Homo sapiens: one gene and its partners. The protein of the gene in region 1 interacts with the protein of each later gene in a pairwise test. Each region holds a gene or a part of one and is shown on either strand. Other genes may lie near its edges.

What was found.
Region 2: the proteins of PLXNA2 (region 1) and FNBP4 interact in a two-hybrid assay, tested with the Homo sapiens proteins (one study listed by BioGRID and IntAct).
Region 3: the proteins of PLXNA2 (region 1) and UBAP2L interact in a two-hybrid assay, tested with the Homo sapiens proteins (one study listed by BioGRID and IntAct).
Region 4: the proteins of PLXNA2 (region 1) and IFT80 interact in a two-hybrid assay, tested with the Homo sapiens proteins (one study listed by BioGRID).

Annotation. Positions count from the first base shown.
Region 1 is NC_000001.11:208,020,666-208,025,139, reverse strand, and holds the end of PLXNA2 (plexin-A2 precursor), read left to right. Parts: 3' UTR 1-2,898; downstream 2,899-4,474. UniProt on the Homo sapiens protein: Coreceptor for SEMA3A and SEMA6A. Necessary for signaling by SEMA6A and class 3 semaphorins and subsequent remodeling of the cytoskeleton. Plays a role in axon guidance, invasive growth and cell migration.
Region 2 is NC_000011.10:47,749,204-47,758,034, reverse strand, and holds part of FNBP4 (formin-binding protein 4), read left to right. Parts: intron 1-1,043; coding exon of another isoform or gene 1,044-1,262; intron 1,263-3,370; coding exon 3,371-3,507; intron 3,508-4,932; coding exon 4,933-5,119; intron 5,120-5,637; coding exon of another isoform or gene 5,638-5,856; intron 5,857-6,744; coding exon 6,745-6,892; intron 6,893-6,998; coding exon 6,999-7,119; intron 7,120-7,901; exon of another isoform or gene 7,902-8,095; intron 8,096-8,831.
Region 3 is NC_000001.11:154,244,175-154,253,005, forward strand, and holds part of UBAP2L (ubiquitin-associated protein 2-like), read left to right. Parts: intron 1-2,029; coding exon 2,030-2,201; intron 2,202-5,064; coding exon 5,065-5,263; intron 5,264-6,866; coding exon 6,867-7,144; intron 7,145-7,306; coding exon 7,307-7,479; intron 7,480-8,831. UniProt on the Homo sapiens protein: Recruits the ubiquitination machinery to RNA polymerase II for polyubiquitination, removal and degradation, when the transcription-coupled nucleotide excision repair (TC-NER) machinery fails to resolve DNA damage.
Region 4 is NC_000003.12:160,277,226-160,284,225, forward strand, and holds part of IFT80 (intraflagellar transport protein 80 homolog), read right to left. Parts: intron 5,389-7,000; coding exon 5,253-5,388; intron 3,590-5,252; coding exon 3,442-3,589; intron 2,140-3,441; coding exon 1,968-2,139; intron 446-1,967; coding exon 356-445; intron 254-355; coding exon 81-253; intron 1-80.

The DNA of each region.
Region 1 (4,474 bases):
CTCAGGAAACTTGCTGTTTTCATTATAATTCACAACCAGCCATGCCAAGGCCACTTTCTTTTGAAAATCCACTTCTTTAAAGTTTCTCAGGCCCTATTAGTAGCCTGAAGGAAATACTAATGACTGGCCTTCCGCACTAAGCCAAAGTGTTTGCTCTTCATAGCACTCAAAGCTTATCAGCGCAGAGCCCATAATTTATGGAGATAAAAGGAAAGGAGATATAGGTAAGAAGAGTGTGACCAGGAGACCTTATGCTACCTGTAAAAAAGTTCAGCCCACCCCATCTAACTTCTGAGCTCTGTTTGGGTGAAGATTTTCTGGCCGCATGGCTGCTCAGACTGGCATCCAGGCTTTGCTCCACCAAGAAGTTAAAGGCAGTCGGACATCTCAGTAGCATCTCTACCAGCCCTTAACTCAATGCATCTACCTGGCATCTCCCAGCAGTTACTTTTGGAGACGATTCACTGCCCCTGGGGCGTTTCCTTGAAGGTTTGTGGAGAGCGTGGAGAATGATGGGGCAATGGCCAATTGGAGGGTGGAGAGTGAAGAGCCGGAGCTGGCTGTGAGTGGTTTGGCCACATTTCTCAGGATTCCATGAGAGACTTGGGGAACTTGGGCTGACAAAGGAAGTAGCCTGGGGCATCCTTAAGGAAGGAATTAAGAAAAGGGAAAAAGCTGGACTCAAGCCACGCCATGAGGGTGAAAGGTTATAAGGCCCTGCCCCCTTTCCAGCTGCCCACCTGTTCCTCCTCCACACCTCTTCGCTTTGGGCCACCAAGAACCAATGAAGTCCACACCCTTTGGATGAGAAAAAGAGGGAGTTGGTTGGCCTCTCTTCTCCCTGTTATCCAATTTGAGGATATTTTGACCTTGGGTAAGGATGAAGTGTTAAAGCCACAGCTCCTCTCCACAAGAAGCCATTCATCTTGGGGGAGGCAGAGAGGGAAGTCTCTCTCCAAAGTCTATCCAGCTTCGCTTCGTTTCATTGATCTGCACAAGAGACAATGCTCTGGAAAAGGAAGAGGACCCCAGAAGGGTGCTTGGCAAGACAGAGGATGCTAATGGGCAATGGAGAGCACTCCCTCCAGCTGGCCCCTGCTGCTGCCTCCCGTCCTCTGCATGGGGTCAGGTGCTTCTGTGCTTGCTGTCCTACCTCTCTCCACAGCAGGGCTCTCAAAACCATTTTGATCCCCCATTGGCAGAGGGTTCCCCTCTTTACAGAGTTCAGTCATTAAAAGCATGGATCAGCTGTTAATCTCATTGGAGGAGGGAACTGTTTCCTGCATTCATTCATCTGGGAACCTTCTTGAGTAGCCACTGTCTGCCAGCCACTGCTCTAGAGATGGGAAAACAGCACGGAACAAAACCAAGGTCTTTCTTCCAGCGAATTTATATCCTTCAGGAAGCTGGTTCCTGCCACCAACTTAGCAGGCAACAGTTCTCCTCCCCTAGTGGCACAGGGTACCAGTTTTGTAGGAAAAGTGGTCCAGCAAAGGAAGAAAGCAGACCAACCCAGCTGCCTTACCTTATTCTGGGGCCATTCCCCCAGCGATGAGAGCTGCTCTTGTTTCTACTGCCACCATCTCTTCTGGCTGCACTTCACCTGCTGCTTGAGCTTCTGACCTTCCTTCAGTTCCACCAAATGAGGACAGGAAATAGCAGTCAAGACCCCTGGCCCTGCTGAGCGTGAAACAGAAGCAATGGATGAGTGCTGGACGAAGAATGGCCTGGGCAGAACAAATAGGGAGCATTTGAAAGCTTCTGGCTGATAAATCTCCAGGTGCATCCCGGTTGCCACGCCTGCCCCCATTAACCTGCTCCTGGTAAATACTGATCCAGCAGCTGCTCCAGGAGAGGCCGTCTTTTTTTCCCAGCCACGCTGTGTCTTGCATGAGACTCCTGGGGCCTGGGCACAGAGAGAAAAGAATTGAGACTCAGGAGGCTCAGTGGGTGAGAAAATGCAAAGTGGCTTCACAGACACAGGGCTGTGGGAGCAGATCGACGGGGAACTTGGGAGATGAACTTCAGGGCCTTCCGACGCCTTGTCTCAGGAACATGCTTTGAGAAAAATGGTAGCATCCTTTCCATAACTCAGTCTCTCTTCCCTAGTTTCCCTGAAGTGTGACGTTTTAGTATCTGGAGCTCAGTGATCCCCATGAATGAGGGATAAAGTTTCACTCTTGGTATTTTCTAACTAGTGCTAGGGAAAGTCCTGAGACACGATCACAGCCACTGCTTGGCATACAGGGCCTCCACCCAATAAGCAAACTGGAGATTCCTCAGCCTCTCGTGGACACCCACATCTCATTCTTCTCACAGCAGAGAAGCTCTCCCTTCAGCCTGAGCTGTCTTCTTTCTGCTGCAGTGCAGCCTGCTCCCTCCTACCCTGGCCTCAAGGAAGGTAGGAAACATCTTCTGCATTTCAAAGTCCTCACTTTGACTTATTTGGCCTTCATCTTGGCATGGAAGGTGGCAGGCAGAATGGAAATACTCCCCCCAAACAGAACAGATATTCTTGCGTGTGTAAGGGCAGAAGGGACAAGCTCTCTATCCCATGAGACTAGGGGCCGGAGCCCACCTGCCTTTCCCCACAACTTTTCCTGCTCAAACCCACTCCTCTTGACACACTGGAATCTGTATTATATATATTTTTAAGAAAATACAATGATGGTTGTCTGGTTTTGTTGTTTTTACAGGTGTTGTGGAATAAAAACTGTAAGAAAATTAAGTATTTAAAATGTTCCAATAAAGTGGGGTTTTTTGTTATTCTAATATATTATTGTGTACCTATTGTAAATATGAAACACTCCTATTTTGCAAGCTGAGGACACAATTTGTACTGTTGTTATATATAAATAAAGTTTACTGAATTAAAAAAACCTTAAATCTTTAAATAAACCCGATTGTTCAGCAGCATATATGCAGAATAACATTTTAAGGGCATATTTAAGAATGGTACTCATGGAAATATGAGCTAAGTTGTTTTGAGGGAGTTTTAGAATTCTCTCTGGAGCCAGAGCTTATTAATGTACCAGTCATCATCATCAACATAACACACACACACACACACACACACACACACACACACACACACACACACACACACACACACGAGATACCGTGGCTTATACCAGCAGGTGAACACTGCCCCCTAGCCCCAAGACCTCAGAATACAGCTTTCCTCCAACTGGAGGCAGCTAGTGTACTCCATGAGTTAGGACCCCTTCCCAGGAGAGAAGGGAGGTCTCAGAAGAATGAGATCCTCCTCTGCCTCCATGCTTAATACATGTTCTTCATGTGTTTGTACATTCATGTATACAAAGTGCATTCTTGTGCTTGTACAAAACGTATTAAGCACGGCCTGGCACTGTGGTAAGTGCTGGGGGATAACATAATAAGTGAGAAAGACATGATCCTTGTCCTCATCAACCTTTTAGTGTAGTGAAAAGCATAGGCTTGCTTAAAAAGGAATGTTTCACCATGCCTTGAGAAGGGGTTTTATGGTTGCTTTTTTTTGGTCATTTTCAGTTAAAGGATTAAAGGTAAATAAAGGGAAAGATGCCAGATAGTGTGTGCTTTTAGATCCAGTGCAGGTAAGACAAGAAGGCGGGCCCTGCCTAGGGGAGAACAGTAGCTGGGCAGACAAAGTCCAGAGGCAGCAGAAACATCACAATTCCACAGTAAGCCTGAGAGGTAGGGAATTGATCTTAGGACTCCTAATCCTTAGGGGTCCCTTAACCCTAGGAGGTCATGCCTCCTCCCCTCCTCTGTACTTTCATCTATTTTACGTTCTGGTGTTCCAACATGTGTGGGTGACACTTCTTCTCTCTGGTAAGAGAAATAGATGAGAATAACTCAAGTATCCATCTGACATCTCAACTGAGCATGCAAGCAAACTGCTGCTCACTATTTCCATGATAATGGGACCAGGAGAGTTCTGGGTCTTCAACCTTATACCAGGCACTAAGAGTAGAGCCTCCTGAAGGATGAGGTGCAGGCCCTGCCTTCAGAGTGCCTCCAGTCTAACATGGACAGCCAACACACAAGGGAGAATGGGGCCTGGGACTTGTAAAACAAAACATGTAAACAAGTGCATGTTGGTAAACATAGTGTGTGCTTACAGCTTCAAAGAGATCATAATTGGGAAGATTGTTAGTCCCGACTTAGCAGCCTCTGAGTTCACAGTGTTTGTGGGTCCCCCATCCACACCGCACACATGTACACACACACACCCTTCCCAGATGGAATGGAGAGATGCAAAAGCTGGTCCTGAGGGTGAGAAAAATGCAAACATAACACCATGAGGAGTCAGGAGGAGAGGAGAAGAGTGCAGTGCTGAGGTCTGCATGTAATTAGTGTGTCATTTTCAACAACACAGTGGGCCTCAGGCCTGGGGAGTGCACCCTTGGGCCTGGGGAGTGCACCAGAGCTTTTTACTAACTTTAAACCATCCTCCTCTTCTCTCTGAAATGCA
Region 2 (8,831 bases), on another chromosome or scaffold:
GAGACCAGCCTAGGCAACATAGGAGATTCCATCTCTGCATAAAATAAAAAATAAAATAAATTAGCCAGGCATGGTGGGTTGTGACTCTAGTCATCCACTCAGGATGCTGAGGCAAGAGAATCATTTGAGGCCAGGAGTTTGAGGATGTAGTGATCCACTGCTTCTGCCTTGGCAATAGAGCAAGACCGTATCTCTTACATATATACATAAACAAATCAAACTTTAGAAATTGATGTTTAGAGGCTATGTGTGGTGGCTCATGCCTGTAGTCCCAGCACTTTGGGAGGCCGAGGTGGGCAGATCACTTGAGGTCAGGAGTCCAAGAGCAGCTAGGCCAACATAGCGAAACCCCATCTCTACTAAAAATGCAAACATTACCCAGGTGTGGTGGTGCACACCTGTAATCCCAGCTACTCGGGAGGCTGAGGCAGGAGAATCGCATGAACCCTGGAGGTGGAGGTTGCAATGAGCCAAGATTGCGCCACTGCACTTCAGCCTGGGCAACAGAGCAAGACTCCGTCTCAGCCGGGTGCGGTGGCTCACGCCTATAATCCCAGCACTTTGGGAGGCCGAGGTGGGCGGGTCACGAGGTCAGGAGATCAAGACCATCCTGGCTAACACGGTGAAACCCCATCTCTACTAAAAATACAAAAAAATTAGCCGGGCGTGGCGGGCGCCTGTAGTCCCAGCTACTCAGGAGGCTGAGGCAGGAGAATGGCGTGAACCTGAGAGGCAGAGCTTGTAGTGAGCGGAGCCACTGCACTCCAGCCTGGGGGACAGAGCGAGACTCCATCTCAAAATAAAATTGCTATTTAAGAACTTACCTACATATGCTGGAAAGGATGTGGAGAAATAGGAACGCTTTTATGCTGTTAGTGGGAGTGTAAACTAGTTCAACCATTGTGGAAGACAGTGTGGTGATTCCTCAAGGATCTAGAACTAGAAATACCATTTGACCCAGCGATCCCATTACTGGGTATATACCCAAAGGATTATAAATCATGCTGCTATAAAGACACATGCACACGTTATGTTTACTGCAGCACTATTCACAATAGCAAAGACTTGGAACCAACCCGAATGTCCATCAATGATAGACTGGATTAAGAAAATGTGGCACATATACACCATAGAATACTATGCAGCCATAAAAAAGGATGAGTTCATGTCCTTTGTAGGGACATGGATGAAGCTGGAAACCATCATTCTGAGCAAACTATCGCAAGGACAGAAAACCAAACACCACATATTCTCACTCATAGGTAGGAATTGAACAATGAGAACATTTGGACACAGGGTGGGGAACATCACACACCGGGGCCTGTCATGGGGTCGGGGGTGGGGGAGGGATAGCATTAAGAGAAATACCTAATGTTAATGATGAGTTAATGGGTGCAGCACACCAACATAGTACATGTATACATATGTAATAAACCTGCACCATTGTGCACATGTACCTTAGAACTTAAAGTATAACAACAACAACAAAAAACTTAACCTACATACAGAAAGAAAAAAATGAAGGCAGGAATTACGATACTAAGGCACTGAATATGAACTCCTACATGATTAATGGAACAATTTATGTTTACTTTTAGGTGACCTTTGAGTTTATGTATGGGATGTATGACACACAAAACTAGATTTAACTTTCGATAAATCTGTTCATTTACCAACTTTTTAGTGAGCGTAGAATGTGTCAGCGCTGTGAAATTTAATATAAGTAATAGCTGGAAAAGTCTAGCTAGAATTTAACATTTTATGTGTTTATAATACATATAATAATACTCTATGTATTATATTGTTAATTGTAATCTTGGAGTAGCCACAGATGATCCAAAAGGAAATGGCATAGCAGCATTACAGAGGCCATACCTGATACCACTTAAATTTGAGGAAGACATTGATCATTGGTTTTAGCCATGTTGAGCCCCATTTTTAATTCCTGTCACTTCATGTTTTTAATTTCTGTCACTTCCTATTTGAGGAATAATCATTGATTAAAAGCTTCGTTTTTAACTTTGAAAGTCTTTATTTCTTTAGTTTTTGAAAGTCTTTGTTTCAGCTGCTACACTGTAATTGGCTCAGTTTGAAGTAAACACTTTAATCACCAAATTCTAAAATCAAGATATACTATCTATGAACAATTTGGAAAGAGAGTGAGATTGAATAATTGATTGAAATAACTATGCAGATTAATTTTCTTGTTCTCGATTTTTTTTGTTTTTGTTTTTTTTTTGGAGACATGGTCAGTCTCACTTTGTCACCCTGGCTGGAGTACAGTGGAGATGTTTCGGCTTAATGCAGCCTCAACCTCCTGGGCTCAAGCTATCCTTGCACCTCAGCCGTATGCTCGGCTAAATTTTTATTCTTTTTCCTTTTCCCTTTTTTTTTTTTTTGTTTTTGTTTTTATGGGATAGACAAGGTCTCACTATGTTTTCGAGGCTGGTCTCAGATTCTGGGCTCAAATGATCTTCCTGCCTCAGATCCTCCCGAAGAAGTTGGGTCTGTAGACATAAGCTGTGTTGCCTGGCTCATAGATCAACATGTTTTTTTATTTTTTATTTTATTTATTTATTTATTTTGAGACGGATTTTCACTGTTGTTGCCCAGGCTGGAGTGCAGTGGCGTGATCTCAGCTCACCGCAACCTCCGCCTCCCGAGTTCAAGCAATTTTTCTGCTTCAGCCTCCTGAGTAGCTGGGATTACAGGCATGTGCCACCACACCTGGATAATTTTGTATTTTTAGTAGAGACAGGGTTTCTCCATGTTGGTCAGGCTGGTCTTGAACTCCTGACTTCAGGTGATCTGCCCGCCTCAGCCTCCCAAAGTGCTGGGATTACAGGTGTGAGCCACCATGCCCAGCCCAGATCAATTTTTTTTTTTTTTTTTTAACCCCCGGAGACAGAGTCTTACTCTTTTGCCCAGGGTGGAGTGCAGTGGCGTGATCTTGGCTCACTGCAACCTCTGCCTCCCAGGTTCAAGCACTTCTCCTGCCTCACTAGCTGGGACTACAGGCACGTGCTACCAGGCCTGGCTAATTTTTTGTATTTTTAATAGAGATGGGGTTTCACCATGTTGCCCAGGCTGGTCTCAAAACGCCTGACCTCATGATCCACCCACCTCGGCCTCCCAAAGTGCTGGGATTACAGGCGTTGAGCCACTGCACCAGGCCTATAGATCAATTTTTATTAGCTTTAACCATACGATGTAATTTATTCTTCTGTGGTAGTTCAGTGATTATTAGTTTTGCGGTTATGTTCTAATCTGTAAGTAAGTTTAAAAAAAACATGTTATACTTCCGCTTTAGATGCTTCTTAGGACATATTGACATTGTTGTTACAAATACTGTTTACCTTTTTGTTTCTAGGCGGTCTATGCTTGCTTGGTGCTTATGCTGACAGTGATGACGATGACAATGATGTTTCCGAAAAACTAGCACAATCCAAAGAGACAAATGGAAACCAGTCAACTGATATTGATAGTACATTGGCCAACTTCCTAGCGGTTAGTGGTGCTTTCGTTTGGAGTTTTAGTTACTGAAGCTACTTTGGGACCTGGATCTTAAGTGGTCAGCGTACTTGTCAGTTCAATGTCTTCCTCCTCCTTTCTCCCTCTCCCTCCAACACTCTCTTGTATTTCTCCCGATCTCTATCTCTCTTTTTGTTTTGTTTTGTTTAACTTTAAGAGATGGGGTCTCACTGTGTTGCTCAGGCTGGTCTTGAACTCTTGGGCTGAAGCGATCCTCCCACCTCGGCCTTCCAAAGTGCTGGGATTATAGGTGTGAGCCATCACACCTGGCTGTCTCTCCTTTTTTTTTTTTTTCTTGAGATAGAATCTCACTCTGTTGCCCAGTCTCGAGTGCAGCGGTACGATCTCGCCTCACCGCAACCTGTCTCCTGGGTTCAAGTAGCTGAGGCTACAGGTATGTGCACCCGAGTAGCTGGGGCTACAGGTATGTGCCACCACACCCAGCTGATTTTTGTATTTTTGGTAGAGACGGGGTTTCACCATGTTGGCCAGGCTGGTCTCAAACTCCTGACCTCAGGTGATCAACCCACCTCGGCCTTCCAAAGTGTTGGGATTACAAGCGTGAGCCACCACCTCCCTTTTCTTTTTGTAAAGCTTTCAAAGAGAAGAAAGGCAAATTAGAAGAGACTGGGGAGCTTGTATAATTGGAAGATGAGGGTTTTGATTTGAGAAGCTTAGAATGAGTATCTAGAATTTTTTTTTTCTCCCTCGAGACTGGGTCTTACTGTCACCCAGGCTGAAATGTGGTGGCGTGATGTTGGCCCACTGCAACCTCTGCCACCCAGGTTCAAGTAATTCTCCCACCTCAGCCTCTTGAGTAGCTGGGATTACAGGCATGTGCCACCACGCCCGATAATAATTGTATTCTTTTTTTTTTGTTTTTTGTTTTTTTTGAGACAGAGTCTTGCTCTTTCACCCAGGTTGGAATGCAGTAGCGTGATCTCGGCTCACTGCAATCCCCGCCTCCCAGATTCAAGCAATTCTAGTGCCTCAGCCTCCCAAGTAGCTGAGATTACAGGTGCCCACCACCACATCCAGCTAATTTTTGTATTTTTAGTAGAGACAAGTTTTCACCATATTGGCCAGGCTGGTTTTGAACTTCTGACCTCAGGTGATCCGCCCGCCTTGGCCGCCCAGAATGCTGGGATTACAGGCGTGAGCCACCGTGCCCAGCCTAATTTTTTTTATTTTTAGTAGAGGGAGATTTCACCATGTTGGCCAGCCTGGTCTCGAATTCCTGACCTCAAGTGATCCACCTGTCTCAGCCTCCCAAAGTGCTGGAACTGTAGGTGTGAGCCACTGTGCCCGGCTCATGTAGAATTTTTAAAAAGTGATTGCCATTTCCTTAAGTTTCTTGTTTTTGATATAATTACTGCATTTGTTACTCTTTTCATACTGAAGGAGATCGATGCCATAACAGCTCCTCAGCCTGCAGCTCCTGTAGGAGCTTCTGCTCCACCTCCAACTCCACCTCGACCAGAGCCAAAGGAAGCAGCAACATCTACCCTTTCTTCTTCTACTTCAAATGGAACAGACTCCACCCAAACATCTGGTTGGCAATATGATACTCAGTGTTCACTGGCAGGAGGTAAACTTGATCCTTTGATTTTTAAAGAAAAGTAAAATCCTTAAAGGGATTCTAGGCATTCACTTTTCTGGTTTTTTGTTTGTTTGTTTGTTTGTTTGTTTTGAGATGGAATCTCGCTCTGTCGCCCAGGCTGGAGTGCACTGGCGCGATCTTGGCTCGCTCCAACCTCCACCTCCTGGGTTCAGACAGTTCTCCTCCCTCAGCCTCCTGAGTAACTGGGACTACAGGCGCACACTGCCATGCCTGGCTAATTTCTCTTTTGTATTTTAGTAGAGACGTGGTTTCACTGTGTTGCCCAAGGCTGGTCTCGAACTCCTGAGCTTAGGAAATCAGCCTGCCTTGGCCTCCCACAGTGCTAGGATTACAGGTGTGAGCCATCGCTCCCGGCTGGCATTCAGTTTTCTAAAGATGAAAGCCCAGAGACTTTAACCTTAGACTTTAGGATTCTGTCTTTTTATTTTTATTTATTTAATTGTTTTTTTTTTTTTTTGAGACTGAGTTTCACCCTTGTTGCCCAGGCTGGAGTGCAGTGATGCGATCTCGGCTCACTGCAACCTCCGCCTCCCAGGTTCAACCAATTCTTCTGCCTCAGTCTCCTGAGCAGCTGGGATTACAGGCACCCACCACCACGCCCAGCAAATTTTTTGTATTTTTAGTAGAGATGGGGTTTCACGATGTTGGCAAAGCTGGTCTCGAACTCCTGACCTCGGGGGATCCACCTGCCTCGGCCTCCCAAGGTGCTGTGATTACAGGTTTGAGCCACCGCGCCCAACCTCTGTCTTTTTAAATAAAGCATGTTGAAGATGGTAGGTAGGATAGTCGGCTCAGAAAACTAGTAGGATGTAATTTTTATCTTTTAAAAAGTAATTGCTTGTCCTTGCCAGTTGAATAAGAAAAGCCATGATATTCAAAGTATTTTAGGTACATTTTTGGACCAGCAAACTGCTTTTTTCTATTTACTAATTTAGAGGTGGAGTTTTGCTCATGTTGCCCAGGCTGGAGTGCAATGGTGCAATCTTGGCTCATCGCAGCCTTTGCCTCCCGAGTTCAAGCAATTCTCCTGCCTCAGCCTCCCGAGTAGCTGGGATTACAGGCACGCACCACCACGCCCAATTTTTGTATTTTTAGTAGAGACAGGGTTTCTGCATGTTGATCAGGCTGGTCTCAAACTCCCGACCTTAGGTGATCTGCCCACCTTGGCCTCCCAAATGCTGGGATTACAGGCATGAGCCACTGTAGCCGGCCAAACTGTTTTTTTTTAAAAAATGTGTTCAAAGGTGACTCTAAATGTTAGATATTGAGAAAATAATTCTTGGTGTTAGGCCAGTGGTTCTCAACCAGTGTTGGGGGGTGCCCCTAGGGGATATTTGACAATGTCTGTCAAATATTTTTTATTGTCACAATGTAGGAGGCAGGGTGGATGGGAGTGCTACTGTATCTAGTGGGCAGAGGCCAGGGGTGCTGCTAAAACCTCCACATAGGATTGCCCCTCCACAACAAAGACCTGTGTGCCCAAAAGTTAACAGTGCTGTTTTGAGAAACTGTTAGGTGATTTTGGCTTTTGAGCTTATATGTAAGCCAGAATTGTAGAGGGATTTGTGCTTAAAATTTGTTTTATCTTCTAGTCGGAATTGAGATGGGCGATTGGCAGGAAGTCTGGGATGAGAACACGGGATGTTATTATTATTGGAATACACAAACAAATGAAGTGACTTGGGAGTTACCCCAATATCTTGCCACACAGGTACAGGGATTACAGCATTACCAGCCCAGGTAAGAATAAATTTAAAAGTGAAATTGCCTAGAAGGAAATTGAAGCCTTATCTTTTGCTGATAGTATTTGTCTTATATTTCTCTTGCTAAGTATATATTTTTTTAGTTCTGTGCCAGGTGCTGAAACTAGTTTTGTGGTAAATACAGACATATATTCTAAGGAGAAAACGATTTCTGTTTCCAGTAGTAAAAGTGGACCAGTCATAGCCAAGCGAGAAGTTAAAAAGGTCAGTGTCGAAACTTACCTCATTTGTTTATTTTCAGATCTAATAAGCGTTACTCTGAGCACAGGAGTGGAAGCCTTCTCTTAATATTTTATGTCATACATGTGAAATAGGATAAGTTTCATAACTTTCACTTTGTTTCTGTGTATTATGTAGCCTTTATAGCGGTTACTCACTTGACTTTTTCTTTTTTCTTTTTTCTTTTTTTTTTTTTTTTTTTTTTTTTTTTTGAGACAGAGTCTCGCCCCGTCACCCAGGCTGGAGTACAGTGGTGCGATCTCAGCTGACTGCAAGCTCCACCTCCCGGGTTCACACCATTCTCCTGCCTCAGCCTCCTGAGTCGCTGGGATTACAAGCACCCGCTACCACACCTGGCTTATTTTTTGTATTTTTAGTGGAGACGGTGTTTCACTGTGTTAGCCAGGATGGTCTCGATCTCCTGACCTCATGATCCGCCTGCCTTGGCCTCCCAGAGTGCTGGGATTACAAGCGTGAGCCACCACATCTGGCCTTTTTTTTTTTTTTTTTTTTTTTTTTGATATGGAGTCTCGCTCTGTTGCCCAGGCTGGAGCGCAGTGGTGCTGTCTCAGCTCACTGCAACCTCTGCCTCCCAGGCTCAAGAAGTGATTCTCCTGCCTCAGCCTTCTGAGTAGCTGGCATTACAGGCACCTGCCACCATGCCTGGCTAATTTTTGTATTTTTATTAGAGGCAGGGTTTCACCATGTTGGTCAGGCTGGTCTCAAACTCCTGACCTCAGGTGATCTACCTGCCTCAGCCTCCCAACGTGCTGAGATTACAGGCATGAGCCACTGCAGCTGGCCCACTTCACTTTTTCTTTGAGAGCTTTAGGGTATCACAGAGGCCTCTTGGATCATTGCAAAGGACGTGGGAGCAGCAGTCCAGACAGGGCTCCACTTCACATAGAATCATTCTATTATTTTTCGGATTCCATATATAAGACATTTTAAAAATATAAAGGTAACTACTTTAAAAACTACTGCAGGTTGAGTATTTCTTAATTGAAATGCCTGGGATCGGAGATAATTTAGATTTTGAATTTTTTTGAATTCTGAAATATTTGCGTTATACTTAGCAGTTGAGTATTCTTAATCTGAAAATGTGAAATCTGAGATGCTCCAGTGAGCATTTCCTTTGATCATCATGTCAGTGCTCAAACGGTTTCAGATTTTGGATTTTTCAATAACGGATACTATGTTAGTGAAACCTGAGCATTTCTATAGCCTAATTAGTAAGAAAAGTAAGTTGTATTCCTTAGGGAGTGTATATTGAATTCCAATTTATCTTCAATTTTAAAGACTTTTTTGCATCAAAATATATTTTAATTTTAATTTTTTTCTTTTTGAGACAGAGTCTTGCTTGGTTACCCAGGCTGGAAGGGAGTGGCGCGATTTCAGCTCATTGCATCCTCCGCCTCCCAGTTTCAAGCAATTCTGCCTCAACTTCCCGAGTAGCTTGGATTACAGGCACAACGCCTGACTAATTTTTCTATTTTTTTTTAGTAGAGACGAGGTTTCACCAGTTGGTCAAGCTGGTCTTGAACTCCTGACCTCAAGTGATCCACCTGCCTCAGACGCTGGGATTACAGGCACAAGCCACCGCACCTTTCCTTTTTATTTACTTATTTTTGAGACAGGATCTGACTCTGTCACCCAGGCTAGAGTACAGTGGCACGACCATGGCTCACTGCAGATTT
Region 3 (8,831 bases), about 54 Mb from region 1:
CTCAAAAATTCAGTTCTGACGTTAACTACCCAGAGTTAATGCAGACCCCACAAGTTGAAAGCTCAGTTCTACAAGAGTGCCCCAACTTCAGAGGTTCTGCCAGCCAGCTACAAATTTGGAGGTTCCCATGACCGCCTTTCAAGTTTGATAACTCACTAGAATGACTGAACTCAGGAGTTTTACTTGCCGTTACTGTTTTTTTGTTTTTGTTTTTGAGACGAGACGGAGTCTTGTTCTGTCACCCAGGCTGGAGTGCAGTGGCGTGATCTTGGCTCACTGCAACCTTCTCCTGGGTTCAAGCCATTCTTCTGCCTCAGCCTCCCTAGTATCTGGGATTACAGGCATGCACCACTATACCCAGCTAATTTTTTATTTTTAGTAGAGGCAGCGTTTCACCATGTTGGCCAGCCTGACCTCAGGTGATCCACCCACCTCAGCCTCCCAAAGTGCTGGGATTACAGGTGTGAGCCACCACACCTGGCCCATTACTGGTTTATTATAAAGGTACAACTCAGCAACAGCTAAACGGAAGAAATGAGTAGGGCAAGGTATGAATGGGTATGTGGGTGGGGCACACACAACCTCCTTGTCCTCTGCAGGTATCCTGAAGCTCTCCAAATCTTATTGTTATGAGTTTTATTACCTAGGCATGATTGATTAAATCATTGGCCATTGGTGATTGGACTTAATAGCCACCTCGCCTACACCCCTGGAATTTGGTGGGATTGGGAGGGGCTTCTGAAAGTTCCAACACTCTTACCTGGTCTCTTTTTTTGAGACAGAGTCTCACTCTGTTGCCCAGGCTGGAGGGCAGTGGCACAATCTTGGCTCACTGCAACCTCCGCCTCCCAGGTTCAAGCGATTCTCCTGCCTCAGCCTCCCGAGTAGCTGGTATAGTAGGCACCCGCCACCACGCCAGGCTAAGTTTTGTATTTTTAGTAGGGTTTTACCATGTTGGCCAGGCTGGTCTCAAACTCCTGACTTCAAGTATCCGCCTGCTTTGGCCTCCCAAAGTGCCGAGTTACAGGTGTGAGCCACTGCATCCAGCCTTATCTGGTCTTTCTAGTGACCAACCCTCATCCTGAAACTATCTGGGGCCCCACCCTGGGCTACCTCATTAGCATTCAGGTATGGTTGAAAGAAGTGTGTTATGAGTAACAAAGGACACTATCACTTAGGAAATTCTAAATGTTTTAGGAGCTCCATGCCAGGAACAAGGCAAAGCTCAAGTATATATTATACCACAGGTAACTTTTGAAATTTTACGAAAATTGTGGGAAAAAATATCTCTCAGACTGCCCCTGTTCTAAAGCCATTTGAAGATTCCAGTGTTCTGGTATATGATTTTCTGTTTTAGGAATTGGTAATGACAGGTATTCAGTATTAAAATCATGGATAAGTACTTGTAAGTTTTGGCTGAGTTATTGAGCTGCCATGTTAAAACTAGCATTTGAGGCCGGGTGCGGTGCGGTGGCTAACGCCTGTAATCCCAGCACTTTGGGAGGCCAAGGCGGGCGGATCATGAGGTCAGGAGATTGAGACCATCCTGGCTAACACGTGAAACCCCTTCTCTATTAAAAATACAAAAAAAAAAAATTAGCCGGGCGTGGTGGCAGGCACCTGTAGTCCCAGCTACAGGCTGAGGCAGGAGAATGGCGTGAACCCAGGAGGCAGAGCTAGCAGTGAGCCAAGATTGCACCACTGCACTCCAGCCTGGGTGACAGAGCGAGACTTTCTCGAAACAAACAAACAAACAAAAACTAGCATTTGATATTTCATTAAATTAATAACTTCACTTAAAAAATTAACCATTATTATTGGCAACATCAGTGGAATTCAGCTATATACTGTAGTGACTCTTATGCATCAGTTATTTTGGGACATTTAAGCATTTCAAGGCTTTTGTGTTTGAACCCTTTTAGAAGAAGCCCCAGCAAGTGGCTTCATTTTGATCTAATCTGATTTGAGTGTTGGGGAATGTTAGCGTGTTCAGTCATTCTTCATGAAGATCCCTTCCCTTCCCCATTAGAATTGACCTTGCTGTTCTGCTGGGGAAGACACCATCTACAATGGAGAATGATTCATCTAATCTGGATCCGTCTCAGGCTCCTTCTCTGGCCCAGCCTCTGGTGTTCAGTAATTCGAAGCAGACTGCCATATCACAGCCTGCTTCAGGGAACACATTTTCTCATCACAGTATGGTGAGTAGGAAACGTGGTTTATCCTAATCAAACCTTCCTGCTAATCCTAGCACACATACACAGTTCCTTCCAAAGACAGTCAGGTTTTTGGCAGGTGAAGCATCCTCTTTGTCTTCTTAAGCAGACTTGGTTGTAGAAATGTTTGAGTTGGGTAATAGGGGGTAGCTCTAAGAGAGGACTTAGTTCTGGACAGACTGAATATTCTTATAAGAATAAGTTAACATTATTTATTGACTACTCATTGTGCTGAATGAACACCATTTGCCATTACTCTTGAGAGAAAATCAATGACATAAACTTGTCAATACATTTTAATCCTTTTGCAGCCCTCATTAAACTATGATGGGAGATTGTAGCAGTTCCCCATTTCTTGATGGATCAGAATTGTCTTGTATATTTACTTAAACCAGGTATTTGTAGACAAGGCCTCCAGAAACCTATGGTCTTCCCATTTCTGCCACTTACTAGCTGTGTCTCCATTTCTATGTAAATAGGGATAAAAGTGCTAGTCCTTCCCATCTTCCCAAAGGTGGCTATACAAGTGTGGTTTCAGTAGTGATATTATAAATAACTTAGAACTTATGACATATTACTTGTTGACTCAGAGCATTTAAAACATCCAAGGTCATTAACGACATCAAAGGAATCATTTAAACTAAACAAAGATGCTACAAGTACCAGTTTTCTCATAGTCATTGAGTCCTGAGAAGTACTGCTTTTTCTTTTTTTCTCTTTTTCTCTCCTATTTTTTGATGGAGGGATACTAAAGTTGTAAGCAGACCATGTGTGTGCATATAATTTTATTTTTCCAGTTAGAGTAATTAGTTTAACTAGAAAACTGCCAAGCTAGCTACTAATTCAGAACTCGGTCAGTTTTTAATTGTTGTCTTAAAATGTTTTTTGTGTGTGTTAAGTTAGTAATTTGGTGGTCGATGTCCTGCCACATAGGAAAGGTAACAGGTGAGAAGAGGTGGGAGGAGAAGGGAAATGGAGAGAAGTGTTGGGATTAAATAGAAAAAGAAGAAAGAAAATAGGACAAAGGTTGTAAGAAGGTGTAATGAAGATCAAGAAGTAACTACCAACCCTTAAAGATAAATGACTGGAAAATGTGATTATGTGATCTATGTCTCTTAATTGCCCTCTTAATGTCTGGAATTGTGAAAATTTACAACGAAATCAGACTTTTGATATCAAAAAGATGTTTTCAGCTGGGGACAGTGACACGTTCCTGTAGTCTCAGCTACTCTGGAGGCTGAAGTGGGAGGATTGCTTGAGACTAGGAGTTCAAGACTATAGTGAGCTTTGAGCTCACCACTGTACTCCAGCCTGGGTGACAGAATGAAACCCTTTCTCTAAAAAAAAATTTTTTTTAAATAAAAATGTGAAAACTAAGTATAAATACTATTCTGTTTTTTTGTTGCCTGTACTAATCAATATGTTAGATAATGTAATTTCCTTTCTATTGAGAATAAATGTTAGAGGATTAATTTCACTTAAAATTTAATAGAGCTAAATAACATGGGAGTTTCTTTATATTTTTATGTATAATACAGTGAACACTAGGTAATTTTAATTGTTTTTATTTTTTATTTATTTTTTATTTTTTTTTGAGACAGAGTTTCACTCTTGTTGCCTAGGCTGGAGTGCAATGGCGCGATCTTGGCTCACCGCAACCTCCACCTCCTGGGTTCAAGCAATTCTCCTGCCTCAGCCTCCTGAGTAGCTGGGGTTACAGGCGCCCGCCACCACGCTTGGCTAATTTTGTATTTTTAGCAGAGACAGGGTTTCACCATGTTGGTCAGGCTGGTTTAGGACTCCTGACCTAAGGTGAGCTGCCCGCCTCAGCCTCCCAAAGTGCTGGGATTACAGGCGTGAGCCACCGCATTCGGCCCAGTGATTACCCTATAGAACTTGTATGTACATGGAGAAAACAATCAAATCATACTGACTTGCTACTTGATTGTCTAGTGCAGAAGTTGGGATGCCCTTTAACTTTTCCTTTTTGCCTCTGTGCTAGTTATTAGCAGCATCGAGATGAGGCTCCAGTTAATTGTTGTTTCTTTTGAGTTTTTTTAATGAGAAGGGCAAGGACCTTAATGGCAAAAGTAAAATCTTATATTACATTTATGTTAATTGTATTGGTTGATTTAAAAATTCTCGGCTGGGTGTGATGGCTCACGCCTCTAATCCCAGCACTTTGGGAGGCCGAGGCGGGTGGATCACGAGGTCAGGAGATCGAGACCATCCTGGCTAACACAGTGAAACGCTGTCTCTACTAAAAATACAAAAAATTAGCCGGGTGTGGTGGCGGGTGCCTGTAGTCCCAGCTACTCGGGAGGCTGAGGCAGGAGAATGGTGTGAACCTGGGAGGCGGAGCTTGCAGTGAGCCGAGATAGCACCACTGCACTCCAGCCTGGGTGACAGAGCGAGACTCTGTCTCAAAAACAAAAACAAAAACAAAAATTCTCCAGTCAGCCAAATTTTATCCCTGAGAAGCAGGGAGAAGGAAGTAATGATGATATGAAGTTTTAATGGCTCTGTTTTTTTAGTGATTACTATGTGCCATACATGTATTAAGTGCTTTAATTTATTTAATCCTCCTACAGCTTTACTTTTATTCCTATTTCCAGATGAGGAAAGAGAGATTAAAAAATAGTTTTTCCAAGCTTACATAGCCAGGATTTCAATCTAAGACAGTCTGACTCTAGGTCCTATACTCTAGTGGACTATGCTGTATACTCAGTGTGACAGTATTCTTTACTTGCCTGATCTATACTGGCTCTCGGTCTGGATAAGTGTCTTTATGAGTAGCTGAACAAGGTTACTGGCTGTAGGTTTCTCTCATCTCTTTGTTGATCTACAGGTGAGCATGTTAGGGAAAGGATTTGGTGATGTCGGTGAAGCTAAAGGCGGCAGTACTACAGGCTCCCAGTTCTTGGAGCAATTCAAGACTGCCCAAGCCCTGGCTCAGTTGGCAGCTCAGCATTCTCAGTCTGGAAGCACCACCACCTCCTCTTGGGACATGGGCTCGACGACACAATCCCCATCACTGGTGCAGTATGGTGAGAAGATGGAAAGTGACTTGAATCTTTAAAGCATTGGAGCATTACTGTCAAGAGGCTAGCAGGGGGAGGGGGTGGAGAATGTGTCCTGAAGTGAAGAAAAGGGGCAGCTAGTTGGTTACCTTCCCACATGTATTTCCCCTAATCAAATAAGCTGAATTCAAGAAGTTGGGGAATAATAAAATTTGAGGCTATGTATTTCTCATCACATTTAGAGGCTGGGCATGGTAGCTTACACCTGTAATCCTAGCACTTTGGGAGGTTGAAGTGGGAGGACAGCCTGAGCCTTAGGAGTTCAAGAACAGCCTGAGCAACATATCAAGACTCCATTTCTAAAAAAATTGTTTTCAATTAGCTGAGTGCGGTGGTGTGCACCTGTGGTCCCAGCCCCTAGTGAGGGTGAGCTAGTGTGAAGCTAGCTTTCCGCAAAAAAAAAAAAAAAAAGAAAAATTTTTAACCATATACATAGTTGCAGTCTTCTGTTGATTGGGGTTTTAATTATTATTATTATTCTCCTTAGATTTATCTTCAGTGTTTGAAAATAACATATTGCCTCCAGGTTCTTAGGCTTAGCCATCTTAAGACCTTATACAGTAAGTCTTCACTTAATGTCATTGATAGGTTCTTGCGACTTTATGCGAAACATAAGACAAGGTCTAGTTCTGTCATCCAGACCGGAGTACAGTGGCACTATCTTGGCTCACTCATCTTCCTGGGCTCAAGCAGTCCTCCCACCTGAGCCTCCTGAGTAGCTGGGACCACAGGCTTGTACCACCATGCCTGGCTAATTTTTAATTTTTTGTAGAGATGGGTTTTCACCGTGTTGCCCAGGTGTGTCTCTTGGGCTCAGGCGATCTGCTGGTCTTGGCCTCCCAAAGTGATGGGATTGCAGGCGTGAGCCATTGCACCTGGCCATTTTTTTTTCCTCATCAACATTATAATGAAATCATGTTGAAGGAAACAACGTTATGCCAAGATATGCCATGCCTTGTTTTTGCTTAAAGCCAGTTTCCAAGCACCTATGGATGTTAAATGAGAACTTGCGGTACTTTAAACTTGGACAATTTGTGCATTCCTGTCTTACACAGACAGGGTAATGTTGATTTAGTTAGGCTTTATTTAAGGATGGTTGTAGGCCAGGTGCGGCAGCTCATGCCTGTAATCCTAGCACTTCGAGAAGCCGAGGCGGACGGATCACTTGAGGTCAGGAGTTCGAGACCAGCCTGGCCAACATGACAAAACCCCGTGTCTACTAAAAACACAAAAATTAGCCAGGCATGGTGGCGCGCGCCTGTAGTCCCAGCTACTCTGAGGCAAGAGAATTGCTTTAACCCAGGAGTCGGATGTTGAAGTGGGCTGAGATTGCACCATTGCATTCCAGCCTGGGTGACAGAGCAAGACTCCCATCTCAAAAAAAAAAAAAAAAAAAAGATGTAATCCAGTGATTGTCACCTATAGAAATGAGATTAAGCCCCAAAAGAGGGCCTGCTTATATGAGTTTCTGATTTTTACAGTCCTCATTCATGGTGCTAGTGCAGGACAATAGCATTTCCTTGAGATTCATTAGCATCTCTGGCTTCATATACTGGGTTTCCTCTTGCAGATTTGAAGAACCCAAGTGATTCAGCAGTGCACAGCCCCTTTACAAAGCGCCAGGCTTTTACCCCATCTTCAACCATGATGGAGGTGTTCCTTCAGGAGAAGTCACCTGCAGTGGCTACCTCCACAGCTGCACCTCCACCTCCGTCTTCTCCTCTGCCAAGCAAATCCACATCGGCTCCACAGATGTCGCCTGGATCTTCAGACAACCAGTCCTCTAGCCCTCAGCCGGCTCAGCAGAAACTGAAACAGCAGAAGAAAAAAGCCTCCTTGACTTCTAAGGTACTTAAACTTTTAGGTAGATACCATTTTATGGCAAGGGGTGTGGGGCTTGAGAATTGAGATTAAAAGGGTAAGTTTGGAAATTTAAAGGGAAGGGTTTTTTTTAGTCTTTAGTAAGGTTGTATTAAAGCCATTACTTTCTCTTCTCCTTCAACTTTATAGATTCCTGCTCTGGCTGTGGAGATGCCTGGCTCAGCAGATATCTCAGGGCTAAACCTGCAGTTTGGGGCATTGCAGTTTGGGTCAGAGCCTGTCCTTTCTGATTATGAGTCCACCCCCACCACGAGCGCCTCTTCAAGCCAGGCTCCAAGTAGCCTGTATACCAGCACGGCCAGGTAGAGGAAACATTAACCATAAGACCTCTCTTATTAACCTTTACTACTTTTTTAATCTGTGGGAGATTTCTAGAACTCTGGAGAGGCCAAGCCCCTCTGCATGGCTGAGGGGGAAAGTAGTCAGTCATAGCATTTTTAGTGCTTTAAAATATTGTTATTAGGGTTATCTGTAACTAAACAGGTAGAAATATGCCCCTTAGGGGCTGGGTGTGATGGCTGACACTTATAATCCCAGCACTTTGGGTGGCCAAGGCAGGAGGATTGCTTGAGGCCAGGAGTTCAAGACCAGCCTGGGCAACATAATGAGTCCCTGTCTCTACAAAAAAAATTTTTTTTTAAACACAGAGTTTCACTCTGTTGCTTAGGCTGGAATGCAGTGGTGCGATCTCGGCTTACTGCAACCTCTGCCACCCGGGTTCAAGCGATTCTCCTGCCTCAGCCTCCCGAGTAGCTGGGATTACAGGTGCCCACCACCATAACCAGCAAATTTTTGTATTTTTTAGTAGAGATGGTGTTTTACCATGTTGGCCAGGCTGGTCTAGAACTCATGACCTCAAGCGATCTACCCACCTCGGCCTCCCAAAGTGCTGGGATTACAGGGGTGAGCAACCGTGCCCAGCCCAGATTTTTTTTTTTTTTTTTTTTTTAGATGGAGTTTTGCTCTGTTGCCAGGCTGGAGTGCAGTGGTGTGATCTCGGCTCACTGTAACCTCTGCCTCCCAGGTTCTAGCAATTCTCCTGCCTCAGCTTCCTGAGTAGCTGAGATTACTGGAATGTGCCACCACATCCGGCTAATTTTTGTATTTTTAGTAGAGACAGGGTTTCACCATGTTGGCCAGGCTGGTCTTGAACTCCTGACCTCGGGTGATCTGCCCTCCTCGGCCTCCCAAAGGACTGGGATTACAGTCATGAGGCACCACGCCTGGCTCAGAGTTTTGCTCTTGTTGCCCAGGCTGAAGTGCAATGGTGCAATCTCCGCTCACTGCAACCTCTGCCTCCCAGGTTTAAGCAATTCTCCTGCCTCAGCCTCCCTAGTAGCTGGAATTACAGGCATGCACCACCATGCCCAGCTAATTTTGTATTTTTAGTAGACATGGGGTTTCACCATGTTGTTCAGGCCAGTCTTGAACTCCTGAATGGAGATGATCTGCCCACCTTGGCCTCCAAAAGTGCTGGGATTACAGGCGTGAGCCACCACACCCGGCCCAAATCTTATATGGTTCTTGAGGGAGCCTAGAATTCAGAATTCTCTAAAATGAGTGTGAACAAAAGATGGCTTTTCCTGTGCTTAGGGTCCATGTTATAATGTATAGAAGGGGCCAAGAGTAATGTATCCTGTATACCGACATTTAG
Region 4 (7,000 bases), on another chromosome or scaffold:
ATGTAATTTACTAAGTGGTAGATGGAAAAATACATTAAGGTCAAACAGATTTTGGAACTGATGGAAAGCATTCTTATTACCTTTCCCAGTTGTAGAGATTAATATTGATCTGGATTGCTTGATAAACAAGGCCAGCCTGAAGAAGTACTATTTCAGCCTCCTGTATGTTCCCACTAAACAGTAGTATGTGGGCCATTTTTGATTCTTTAGATGGAAGATTTTTTATAGAATTGATGTACTGAACCTTATCAATCTAAAAAAGAAAAGAAAAATATTGAAGTAGATAGTAACAGAAATATAATAAATTACGCTAAGAAAAAACACATGTACATATATGTAAACATTAATTACTTACTTCACCAATTGCTGCATAGGCTATTTCTGCAGTAGTCATATCTCGATTAGCAACTGCCATAGCAGCTAGACAAGCCCACATGGTTTGCTCCTAAAGTAAAGTATGAGAACAATTATCTTAACTATGTGACTGAACTGCCTTAAAATAAGCAGTGATTTAAATACTCATACTAAAATGATATTTTAATTTAAAAAATAAAAATTACTGAGCAGGGCATTAAAAAAAACTAATAATGTGGGAATTTCATTGTGGCCATTTTGTTAAAATATATTAATACACAGAAAACTTTTGAATGAAATTTTCAATTTTGAGTTATTAAGGATTTATTTCTGAATTTAAAATAATAACTCAAGGTTATAAACCTTCCAGTCTTTTTGACGAGGTGTCAAAAAATGTAATTTATAGGGAACCAAAGAAATAGTGAAGTTCTCAGACAATGATATTATGGTAGATTGCTACTGATATACCAGTTAAGAAGAAATTACTTAGGCAGATAGTGAGGGTACAGAAGTCCTTTACGATAAGGTTTTCCTTTTAATGAAAAGCAGCCCCCAAATCATTTTCTTTTCTAACAAAGAGCAGCCTGTAAAATAGAGCTGCAGATATAAACAAGCAAGCTGGAAGCTTGCATGAGTGAATGCCAGTAGTTGTGCCCATAGCAATATGCTACCTGGGACTGGGGATGTTCAAACAGCAGCTCCATCTTCTCTTTTTGCCAGCCATCTGTACAGTAAGGAGTATACAAGATGGCACTGGCCAGGTGGAAAGTCTATTTGCATAATAAGATTAGGGTGGGGCAACCAGCCTTCCCTGTGCTATGTAAATGTCACACCTGGTCAAACCAATCTGTGAGCACTATGTAAATCAGACACGGCCTCCTCAAGCCTGCCTATGAAATCTGCTGCAGTCCACCACTTTTCCCTTTTTGGATTCCTCTCTCTGGCAAGGAGCTGCTCTCCTCTCTCCTTTCTTCTGCCTATTACGCTTTCCACTCCTTAACCTACCCACATGTGTCCGTCCTTGATTTTCTTGGTGTGAGATGACAAACTCCGGGTATTTACCCCAGACAATGATGCTATTCACCACCAACAACCCATTGTTAAAAAAAGCATCTAAAAGTCATTTCACAAAAGTGTATTCTAAGGAATGTTCACTGATGTTCAATAAAAAAGGTCTATGGTCAAACATGTTTGAAAAATACTAGATTCAACCAAGTTGGAAAAAGGCTGATCGAAAGCAGAGATTCTTAACCTTAGCTGTACAAAACAATCATCTGAGGAAATTAAAAAATATGCCCAGGACTCAATCCAGATATAATGAATTAGAATCTCTACGGGAGTAGAACTTGGGAACCTGACTTTCAGAAAACTTCCACAGAAGATTTTTATATGTGCCAGTATGGAAAAACAGTTTAAATTTTTATAGCGTCTTCAGAGAATAAATCACACAGCAACATGTATTCCTCTGTATTGCCCATGTCTTTACTTATAAAAAAAGACATGATCTTATTCACAATTTTTCCAGCCTTTAAGCCTATTATCATTACTCATTTTGCACAAAGGTAAACTACTATGAAATATATATACAACTATGAATCTAAAATGTAAATTACCTTAACAAAGCGACAAAGTCTCACAGCATCTTCCCATTTTGAACTGCTTACATATTCATGGAGAATAGCAGGATATGGTGTTATGCTGATGTGAACCAGGGAGCCATCAGCTCTTCTAATAGTTACTTGATTTCCAACAAAACTCACAATATGGGGATTTTTACTAAATTCACTGTTGAAAAAAAAAGCAAAGTACAATTTAAAGTTGTATTCTGAGCAAAATTTTTCATGTATATTAAATTTGGGGAGTGGACCGTGAAATACACACGGAGTCTCCAATCTCCAAAAGGCACACCCCCAAAGGTTAACTCCAGGGAGAATGTATATGTTCAAAAAAAATTTCAATGTATTTATTTGAATACATATTCTCCCTGGAATTAACTTTGAATGTAAACATTTGAATATAACTTGCTATATAAAGTAGCAAAAATTATTACATATTTGAGAGCTATTCCTAAGAGCATTTGAAATCATCTTTTTTTCCGAGGCTTAAGATAAATCACAACAATAATTTATATAGCTTTAGCTTTTAAAAGTATTAAAGGGTAAAACAATAAAAAGTAAACCAAATTCCAAGACTATTTTCTCAGAATAAAAAGAGGTGAGCCAGGCACAGTGGCTCACACCTGCAGCCTTAACTACTTGGGAAGATCACTTAAGCCCAGGCTGCAGTGAGCCATGATTACACCACTGCATTCCAGCTTTGGCAACAGAGTGTGACCTTGACTCTAAAAATAAATAAGTAAAAAGAGATGACCTTTAAATAAAAAGACTAATTTTTTTTCATTAGTCCAAATACTTTTAAAAATACGCTGTTTTATTTTGATGCCTCTCTGGTTTTGTTAAGGTTTTGAATTTGAATACTAAAAACAAACTCAAAACAGATTTGAAAACTAAGCTAAGGTCTAGAATTAAGAAGCCTTTGTATTCCTATTTTGTCAAGAATAAGAGATCTCCTTGCTATTTCTTAGAGAATTTAGGAATATAAATGGTTTGATTTTCTGAAGCATATAAATTTTTAAAAATTTCAGTAACTTTGGTCTTTTCCTACTTTTAATATCAACCAAAAATTCAATTCTAGAGACATTTACATTCTTGAAAGTGTTAACGTCAATGATAATCTGTGACAGCGTTGGGTAGTTGTCACAAGGTTGTGCATCCTGAAAAATCTTAAAGAGTGCCTAGACTAAAATCACTTGATCACACTGAGAAAACTACCTGAGCTACCATTACACAATATTAAGCTTGAAAATTATATTCATATAAGGGACAAATAAATAATTCATATCATACCACACTTTCAACTTGATTCTGTCACTTAAGTCTCAAGCTAGCTTTAGCCGAACAATTTATTCATCAATAAATCTGACTGATGTGTAAAACACCTTGCAGGATTGAAAATAGAAGCCAAAACATGATACTCTATTAGAGTTTTATTTACTACAAAACAGAATTATACGCAGTAAAATGTTACCTTGCATCCCTTTCATATAATGTTTTAGGCAAAATGTCTCTGTCCACATAAACTGTATTGGGGTAATACCACACTATAAATCGAGTATCTTGAAGTCCACAAAGGATATTGCATGTATCGTTCCATGCCAAAGTATGCACCATTGTTCCTTAATTTAAAAAGAATGTTAATGTGCTATTAGCTTTAATATGTAAGAATTAAAAATAGATCTTTAAAATGCCTGACAAACAAAATCCCATACAATTTCTGGTAGATATGACTCTACTTTCTGATTCTATAATGGTGAAAAACACATACCAAACAATCACACAAGAATTTACAGAAATATTTGAATGCTTTACTTAGAACCCTTATATTTTTAATCTGTAAATCTTTCTTTCAGTGACAATTTAGCTGCAGCAGCTAAAGACTTGCTAATAAGTTAATCCTCTTGCCCTCAGGCCATCAAGCTCCAGATGATCCTCAGTGAGGAATACCGTCCCCTCAATATTCAAGAGTCACTCTTCTACAGGGGACCCCTAGTCTGCCCATCAGTGGGACATGACAGAGGTGAAGTCCTCCCTTGTCTCCCTTGGACCTAGCTGCATACTGCTTTCACCAACCCACGGAGCCACCCTGCCCTGACAGCTAGCAAGAGGCCAAGATCCACAGAATAACCACCATTGCCCCTCTGTCAGCAGGAAGCAGTTACAGAAGACTGACTTTTGTCCATTTTCCCCATAGAATTGGGGTCTTGGACTCTTGAGGGTGGAAATGTTACAGCAGGTAGTCAGGCAGACATGAGCAAGTCAGGAGAGGCCCCTGCCACCAGCACCAGGAATGTCAGGTGACCATCAGGTGATGGTCAGGCTGTTGTTAAGCTGTCTCTCTAAAATAATAATTGGTTGCAGCCAGTGCCAGGGAAAGGTAGTCTCTCAATATAAACACTGAAACTGGAAATCAGTAGCTTCTCAATAAGATCTCAAGAGCTAGGTGAGTGGGCTCACACATGACTAACAGGCAAAATGGTGGAGGAGTTTAACTGGTATACAAACTTCCTCTAGAAACACTGGAGTGGTAAGGGAAAAACGCCTCAAGTGAGCATGTGTATAACTTTAGTAAACACACTGTGCATGTGGCCCCTCCCAGGTGTTGGCAGGCCACTATGCATGTGGACAGCCCACCCAAGGGAAGAATTAGGGCAGAAGGGTTGCAACTCCCCAGAAGCATGCCAAAGTATAAAACCCCAAGTCAAAGATCAAACAGTGCACTTGATCTCTCAAGCTGCCTGCTTGCCCTCTACCAAGTTTACTTTATTTCCTTTCTTTCCTGCTCTAAAGCTTTCAAATAGGCCAGGCCCAGTGGCTTACGCCTGTAATCCCAGCACTTTAAGAGACTGAGGCAGGTGGATGGCTTGAGCTCAGGAGTTCGAGACCAGCCTGGGCAACATGGTGAAACCTTGTCTCTACCAAAAATACAAAAAAATTTAGCTGGATGTGGTGGCACATGACTGTAGTCCTAGCTACTTGGGAGGCTGAGGCAGGAGAATCACTTGAGCCCAGGAAGCGGAGGTTTTGGTGACCTTGATCTTGCCACTCCACTCCAGCATGGGTGACAGAGTGAGACCCTGTCTCAATAAAACACAATAAAAATTTAAAAATAAAGCTTTTTAATAAACTTTCACTCCTACTTTTTTAAAAAAAGGGTTAAATAGCTAAGAAGTATTACAAGATCAAAACATTAAAACATTTCCAGATTCATTCAAATTATTTATTACAGCAAATATAAGAAAGTTGACAATTAAAACTTAAAATGTATTAAAATTATTTTACCAAGCTTGATAATTTGTTCTTCCTTCCCAAATCGTTTCACAGAAGTGATACAGAGATCTCTATTTTTATCAATGAAAGCAATTTTTCTATCATTGGTAAGTCCTTTTTGATCCAGAGCAATTTCCAAGATTTCATTCTAAAATTTTTTTTAAATGTAAATACTGGGTTAGTTTTAGTGTTTGACATAAGATCATTTTAATTAATTATAAAATCATTTCCTTTAAGATCAATTAAATGTCATTTCCCCATTTATAATGATAAAATGTCCCTGTTAAATAATTTTAAACTGCCAATATGTTAATCGTTCAAAAGCTGCACTGAAGTATATTTGCCTGACATCCAAGGAAAAGATACCTCTTAAAATACAATAAAATAATATGTATTTTGATATTCTGTAGGCTGAGAAACACTCGATCTGTCCTGTCCTACCTTTCGTAGTCAAGGTGAAAGGGTCAGGCAATTCTGAGTATCATATGAGAGGTCTATTTTGATTAATAAGTTGCCTAACAACTATATCTTAAATATTTGTAAAAAAAATTTTGGAAATATGTGGAAATACATCATGTGTCCAGGGCCTTAAATTCTATAGATTCTCTCACATTCATTCTTGCAAAATAGGAAACAAGCTTGTAATGTAGGTATTACTATACTTACTTTGCAAATCAGAAGACTAGACTCATATTCACTAAGTGATTTTGCTCAGAAAAAGCCAGTGTCAAGTATATCTAAACTTGCAACTCAGACTTCTAACTCCAAGATCACTGCTTTTCATTTGCTAGTGAGATGAATTTTACTATAACTTGAAAATGTTTTAATATAGATTCATTTTAATTCAAACCAAGCAAGATTTATTTACCTCCTACAATGTCTGAAGACTTTGGTAGGAATTGTGAATTCAACCAGAATAATGACTACAACATCAAGTCATTGTATCAAAATGTACTATAAAAAACACTTTTTAAAGTAAAACAAAACACACATACACCTTTATCCAAATTGATGAATCAGTCATATACCAGTTCATAATACATTTTAAAAAGTTCAACTCTTTCTGGAATACCATAATTTATATTTTAAGAAAGAAAAGAATTTGGTTTCATATATATCAAGGCATGCATGAAATATAACTCTAGGTATTTTCAAAATGGAAATGTTTCAGAGAAACTGATCTTTACAATAAAGAATTGCTTATCATCGTCATCATCATCATCAGAACCTAGTGTATTCTTTTAAAAACACTGTTAAACAGATATGATTCTCCTAAGAAATTAAAAATCAAAGATGGATAGTAATTATAGTAATGCCTATGTACATAGGGGAAGAGGGGCTCCCCCACTTCATTCAGCAGGGCTTCCCCCATTTTCCTCTTGTCAAGTCCTACCACCTCCACATAGGTTCTATTCCTCCTGGGTTACTCTTTGTAGTGGGACATAAAAGCAGTTTTGTGTTCATTAGAACCGTCTCCCTTGCCCTACACTAATTAATATTCATTTACTAATACACAGACTTGAGTTCTAGTTTGGGCTCTGTTATTGGGAAGATCCTGGATATGAATTTCTTCCACATATAAAATAAAATAGATTGGGTGATTTTTCTATTATTTTATAGAATGTAAAATTTAAAAATCCTTTGTATTGCATACAAATGTACTGGGTAATTGGGTGAAGTGTGACATGTAGAAGACACTTCCATTCTTATAATTAGGAAATTATAAATTTCTTAATTTTAATTGTAAATTAAATTATTTT